Linked DNA regions of Homo sapiens. The protein of the gene in region 2 purifies or fractionates together with the protein of the main gene of each other region. This does not show direct contact. Each region holds a gene or a part of one and is shown on either strand. Other genes may lie near its edges.

Evidence for each region. The genes of interacting proteins can lie anywhere in the genome.
Region 1: the proteins of SIM2 (region 2) and NUDCD3 purify together in Homo sapiens (affinity purification with a luminescence readout; one large-scale study listed by IntAct). This does not show direct contact.

The regions. Positions count from the first base shown.
Region 1 is NC_000007.14:44,407,158-44,410,733, reverse strand, and holds part of NUDCD3 (nudC domain-containing protein 3), read left to right. Parts: intron 1-3,576.
Region 2 is NC_000021.9:36,723,068-36,726,643, forward strand, and holds part of SIM2 (single-minded homolog 2 long isoform), read left to right. Parts: coding exon 1-63; intron 64-3,051; coding exon 3,052-3,251; intron 3,252-3,576. UniProt on the Homo sapiens protein: Transcription factor that may be a master gene of CNS development in cooperation with Arnt. It may have pleiotropic effects in the tissues expressed during development.

The DNA of each region.
Region 1 (3,576 bases), on a different chromosome or scaffold from region 2:
GCCTCCCAGAGTGCTGGGATTACAGGTGTGAGCCACCATGCCTGGCCTGTTACTAGACTTTTTTTTTTTTGAGACAGAGTCTTGCTCTGTCCCCCAGGCTGGAGTGCAGTGGCAGGATCTCCACTCACTGCAAGCTCCACCTCCTGGGTTCACACCATTCTCCTGCCTCAGCCTCCCAAGTAGCTGGGACTACAGGCACCCGCCACCACACCCGGATAATTTTTTTTGTATTTTTAGTAGAGACGGGGTTTCACCATGTTAGCCAGGATGGTCTTGATCTTCTGACCTCGTGATCCACCCACCTCGGCCTCCCAAAGTGCTGGGATTACAGGCGTGAGCCACTGTGCCTGGCTGTTTTTAGACTTTTAATTCTGTTCCATTGATCTGTATAGATGCCTGTCCTTATGCCAGTACCACACTGTTTTGATTACTGTAGCTTTATAGTAAGTTCTGAAGATTTTATTCCTTGTTTTTGTTCTGTTCCTTCATTATTGACTTGGCTTTTTTGACAGTTTGATTATGACATCTAGGTGAGGCTGGCTCCCTTTTAGTTTATTTTACTTGGAATTCATTGAGCTTCTTGGGTGTAATTTTTTTCATGTCAAATTTGGAAAGTTTTTAGCCATTATTCTTTCAAATATTCTTTCTTCTTTTCTCTTCTGTATGTTGGTATGCTTAATAGTGTCCCTCAGGTTCTGTGACTCTGTTTATTTTTCTTCACTGTTTTTTCCTCCTGTTTCGCAGTTTGGGTAATCTCAATTGACCTGTCTTCAAGTTTGCTTGTTCTTTCTTCTAAATGCTAAAAAGTGGTTTTGAGCCCCTTTCATGAACGCTTATCTTTTCCCCCTTTTACTTTTGAACTCCAGAATTTGTATTTGATTCTTAAAAAAATGGTAATAATAATTTCTATCTCGTTATCAGTATCAATAGTGATACTGATATTTATTGATATTCTCTACTTAAAAGACGTTATTCCCATACTTTCCTTTAGTAATTTTTGCATAGTTTTCTTAGCTCTTTGAGCATATTTAAAATAGGTGATTTAGAGACTGTTTTCTGCTAAGTTCTTCATATGTGGGCTTCCTCAGGGACAGATTTTATTGATTGCTTTCTTTTTCCTATGTATGGGCCATACTTTGTTGTTTCTTTGTCTAATTTTTTTTTTTTTGCTGTTATTGAGAAATGGATTTTTAAATAACACAATGGGGTGACTCAGGAAATCAGATGCTCCTTTCTTCCCATGGTTGCTATTGGTACGTGATATAGTTGTTCTTGTTTAATGACTTTTCTGAACTAATTCTGTAAAGTTTGTATTCTTTATTGTGTCTGACCAGTGAAATCTGTACTTGGTGAACTTAGTGGCCAAGTAATTATTAGATGGCGATTTCCTTAAACTCCTGGGATCAGTAAACACCTGTTTTTGTCGAGGGGCTTCATCTACCTGTTGGAGCATACCTTCATTGCTTGGCCTAACAGTTAAAAACTGCCTTAGCCTTTATTTCCTGCTGATGTTGAGTCAAAGTCAGCCAGAGGTGAGAGCTTAAGGCCTTCTTAGGTTTTTCCTGAGTGTGCAGTGAAGCTCTGTACATTCATGTGTCTTTCTAGATTCCTGGGAAAATGTCAAAGCTTTTCAAAGCCCCCACGGACATTTTATTTCCCACCTTTGCCTTTGGTTTGCCTCAGTTGTTATCTGCCACCTCAGGAGGCTGCAAAGTTAAAACACTTGCCGTATTTTCAACAGACACTCCTGGGTTGGGAGGAAGGCTTTTCTGAGTTTAGCCAGAAACAGTCAGTCAGTCTTGCAAATGAGGTCTTACAGGGAACCATCAGACAGGTCAAATGATGACAGTTCTTTGAGAATGAAGCTTTGAAAGAGCTCTAAGAGCACTGTTTTCTCCAGCGATGGCTGCTACGCTGTACCAGGAATGCGGCCTGCTGAGAGCCTGGAGAGTGGGGATGGGTCTAGGCCAAATTAAAATATCACAGAGCTCACTGTTCTTACTGAGATGTGGTTGTTTTCCTTGAATTAATGCTCCCTGGGTTCCTGCAAACCTTTGGTTAGTTTCCAAAATCCATAAGAAGTTGATACTGACAATTTTTGCCAACTTTTTGGTTGCTTTTATGGAGGAGAGCTTTTTGGAGGCCTGTAGTAACCACCATTTTCACTGACATCCTTTGGATCAGGAATCTCTTAAATCTTTTTTGTTTTCCTGAGGGTTCTTGCTGCCCTTCTTTTTTATCTTGTTATCAAAAATAGTATACTTCATCATAACCTCAGAATTACCCAGATTCATTAATACTGAGTATTGTCTAGAAATCTCTTTCTGCCTGAACTCCACTCTAGACTGGTTATTTCCTGTTCTGCTGTATAGCTACACTCCTGGTATTTTCTTCCTGCGTTTATAGATTAAATGCAGTTTTTGGACTTGAGTTGGATATTCCTCTTTTTCAGTTTTCATCCTCATTTTGTTTTTCTCAAAGTGATATATAATGTAGAATTGTTGTATATCTTAAAATGCATTTATTTTAACTTTTCACTTATTTCTCAGTTTGGGTGTATGTAGAATTCTAGCTTAAAAATAATTTTCCCTTGTTAGGATTGAAAGGGATATCTTCTTACACTCTGTGTAATTGATTCTGGAAGTCTATTCCATCTCTTTGTGAGTAAGCTTTTTCTCCTCCTTGGAACTTTCAGGACCTTTTTAAAAACACCCAGTGTCATAAAATTTCATGAGTCTTTCATTCATTCTGCTTAGCTCTTGGTGGGACTTTTCAATCTGGAGGCATATTTTCCTTTGGCTCTGGAAAATTATCTTATTACTGTCATAATTTCTGGAATGCCAAATTGATTGCCTGAATTGATCTGTGTTTCTACCTTGATTTCTTTGACTTTATCTTCCAGCCTCTTTATTGAAGTTTAATTTTAGCTACTGTATTTTAAATTCTTGTGTTCTTTCTTTTTGGCCTAATTGTTCTATTTTCATATTTTATTCTGGTTATATGGATATAGTGTCTTCTCAGATCTCTGTGAAGACATAAAATAGAAATATTTTTGGATATCTTTTTTCCAAATTAGCTCTGTATTTTTTTTTAACTTGTTTTCATCTGCCTGTTTTTTCTCACAAGATGCAGTCTTCAGTTCTCTAGTTTTTTTTTTTTTTTTTTTTGAGACAGAATTTCACTCCTGTTGCTCAGGCTCCTGTTGCAATGGTGCAGTCTCGGCTCACCGCAACCTCTGCCTCCCAGGTTCAAGCGATTCTCCTGCCTCAGCCTCCGGAGTAGCTGGGGTTACAGGCATACAACACCACGCCTGGCTAATTTTGTATTTTTGGTAGAGACGGGGTTTCTCCATGTTGGTCAGGCTGGTCTCGAACTGTCAACCTTAGGTGATCTGCCTGCCTCGGCCTCCTAAAGTGCTGAGATTACAGGTGTGAGCCACCATGCCCGGTCTTTTTTTTTTTTTTAATACAAAAATATTTTTCTCCCATTCTCTTGAGTGTGGGACCGTATTGATGGGTTTGTCTACTGTGTGTCTGAAACCTGCTCGTCCCACCACCACCGACAGCTGAGTGGATT
Region 2 (3,576 bases):
TTTCTTCGAATGAAATGTGTCTTGGCGAAAAGGAACGCGGGCCTGACCTGCAGCGGATACAAGGTACGGGGAGTCATGGGTGCGGGGAGGAGCTGGCTAAGGGTCTTCAATGTGTGTTTTCAAGAGCGTCTGCAGAAAGGAAGGCACGGGAGCACAAACTCGTCATCCCCACTAATGTAGAGCTCTCCAGCAACGTGGTGCACAGTCTCTTGGAGGCTCATGTGAGAGCTGGTGTTTTAGGAGGATGTTCCAGCTGGCTGGAATTCATCGCATAAGACCCGGAATCAGTGTGGCTTAGGGCAGATTTTATTAATACCTTGGCACTTTCCATGTGGACCAGTCCCAGTGGAGCCACCGCCTCTGGAGTTTATAGAGGCCCATCCTCCTGGGCACAGTGCAGCTGGCAGTGGTATCCAGAGCACGGACACTGCCCTTCCCCTTGGGATGCTCCACCAAGTTCCCTGCCGCCGATGACGGTGTGCACCACAATAATGCTAGCGCCCTTTCCAAGGTCCAAGGCAGAGCTTTCATCTGCGGCACCACACCTGGGCCACTCCCTCAAGCATCTCAGCTGCCCATTGGAATGAGCAGCACTGGCCCAGTTTTCTAGTCAAGGACCAGAGGAGGGACGGCAGAAGGGGCTTGGTGGCGGAGCTGGGACTCTGAGCCCAGCCCATGCTCCTCCCTGGCTCCACGTCTCTGCCAGACACCACCGCTTGTTCTTGTTAATTCCAGAATGGAGGAGTAGGTCATGTCTCAGGGCACGAGAGTCAGCCGCCCCCCAGGGAAAAGTGGGTCGGGGGAAGTCTGTGCTGAGTGCCCCCCGCCAACACTTTTGTCCCCTCTCTGGGCTCCTTACCCTCCTCCCAGGCATCTTCACTGCCATCTCTCCAACCTCAGAGGACAGACATCATAACCCATCAATATGAGGCTGAAAGCTGCCAGAAACTTTCTTCCAGGAGGATTTGTCTCTTAGAAAAGAAGGGAGGAGGATGGGGTGAGAGGAAAGGGCACTTTTGTGCCTTTGTCCTCTCTTTCTGGAAGGCCCCGCCCCAGCTCCCCTCTTTGACCCCACTCTGAGCTCCTCCTTTGACCTATATCTCACTGTGCTGTTACAGTTCGGGGGACATGTTTCTTCCTTTTTGTCCCAGATACTAAGCCTCTTTGGGCCACGGTGGGGCCCCAGGAGCCAACAGACATTCTTCAGGGCACTTGGGTCTTTTTGTTAAGGGACAGGGTCTTGCTCTGTCACCCAGGCTGGAGTCCAGTGGTGCAATCACAGCTCACTGGAGCCTCAAACTCCTGGGCTCAAATGATCCTCCCACCTCAGCCATCTGTGTAGCTGGGGCCACAGGCGCACGCCACCACACCCAGCTAATTTTTAAAATTTTTTGTGGAGATGGGGTCTTGCTGTGTTTCCAGGCTGGTCTTGAGTCCCTAGCCTCAGTCAATCCTCCTGCCTTGGCCTCCCAAAGTGTCAGGATTACAGACAGGAGCCACCGCGCCTGGATGGGACTTGGGTCTTGACTTTTTTTTGCCACTTATTAACTGTCCGCTGTCCAATCTTAAGCAATACACAACACCATCTTGTTCTTGGTTTCCTCATTAGTAAAATGGGAGAATAGACTGGAAGGATTTTAAGATTTGTTTTAGCCCTAAAGATGATGAATGCATTCAGAAATCCTGGAGAAAGAGTTTTGGAACAGAGAACTTAAGGCTAAGATTCTTCACTGTTGTCATGATGATATTGACCCTGTCAAGATTTCACAGACTGCAGCTTGAATAAATGCTTCCAGTAGTGACGCTCGAGGCTGTACAGATGTTTCTGTTTGACACCGAAACACTGCATTCTTGTCTGTATGGCTTTTGGCTATAGCAATTGGAAGGGCTTCTGTAGGGCCACTCTGGCTTATTATTATGAGGAAATAAAATCTTGAATTATAAATAAAGGAAATAAAAATACATTAAAAATGAAGACTTCAAAAAATTGTACTGGGGCAGGGCACAGTGATTCATGCCTGTAATTCCAGTACTTTGGAAGGCTAATGTGGGAGGATTGCTTGAGCCCAGGGGTTCGAGACCAGTCTGGGCAACATAATGAGACCTTGTCTCTACAAAAAATTTTTTAAAAAATTAGCCAGGCACGGTGGCACATGCCTGTGGTCCCAGCTACTCAGGAGGCTAAGGTGGGAGGATCACTTGAGCCTGGGAGGTCAAGGCTGCAGTGAGCCTGATTGCACTACTGCACTCCAGCCTGAATGACAGTGAGACCTTGTCTAAAAAAAAATCTACGGAAAGAATTGTTTATTTACTGGTACAGCGTGTCGAGTGATACAGATGCCAAGTTCAATCCCATTGGAAGGTGGTAAGCAGCATCGTCAGTGATGCAAGCACTGTGGAACAAATGGTTGGCCTCCCCCAGATGCCTTTATTGTGTTACCTACTCACAGCTTGGCAGTGAGCTCATATGTATATCTCCATCATATATGACAGGGCCCTAATTTGTAGTTACTTACAGTACAGTCAATTGGATAAGACAACCCTTATATTTTATTATGATATTTTTTGTTGTCTTGTGAGTTTGTTTTGTTACCCTGGCTGGAGTGCAGTGGCACAATCTCGGCTCACTGCAACCCCCGCCTCCAGGGCTCAAGTGATCCTCCCACCTCAGCCTCCCAAGTAGCTGGAGACTATAGGCATGCACCACCATGCCCGGATAATTTTTGTATTTTTTGTAGAGAAGGGGTTTCGCCATGTCACCAAGGCTGGTCTCGAACTCCTGGACTCAAGCAATCCCCCGACCTCGGCCTCCCAAAGTGCTGAGATGGCAAGACTGAGCCACTGCTTCCAGCTGTTATGTTGTTTCCTAAGAAGCACAGCTCTCCACTTCTCCTAAGCAATGAACCGGTGCCTGTCAGCACATTGGGCCGCACAGTGGAGTAGAGGCTGGGCTGGGAGATATTCTAGCATGTTTGAGAAAATGAGCCAGGAGGAGTGGGCTCCAGCCCAACCCCAGTGGCCAGTGGCTGACCCTGCCCTCTCCACTCCCAGGTCATCCACTGCAGTGGCTACTTGAAGATCAGGCAGTATATGCTGGACATGTCCCTGTACGACTCCTGCTACCAGATTGTGGGGCTGGTGGCCGTGGGCCAGTCGCTGCCACCCAGTGCCATCACCGAGATCAAGCTGTACAGTAACATGTTCATGTTCAGGGCCAGCCTTGACCTGAAGCTGATATTCCTGGATTCCAGGTGAGTTCGGCACCTGCCACAGTGGCTGTGGCCTTCTGGAAGACACCGGTGGTGGAAATGGGTCCCTGAAAGCTGCCATCTTGGCCAAATCATAACAAGGAATAAGTCATAATAGGAATGTGGATTAAGCAAAACCAATTTATGAACTGAAAGAACATATGTCAGCCTTAGGACTCAAGGGCTTGTTTTACTTTATTTACTTATTGATTTACTTATTTTATTTACTTATTGATTACTTATTTTATTTACTTATTGATTACTTGTTTTATTTTATTTACTTATTTGAATCACTAGAGTTTGAAATGAAAACATGGGCTGTGAGCAC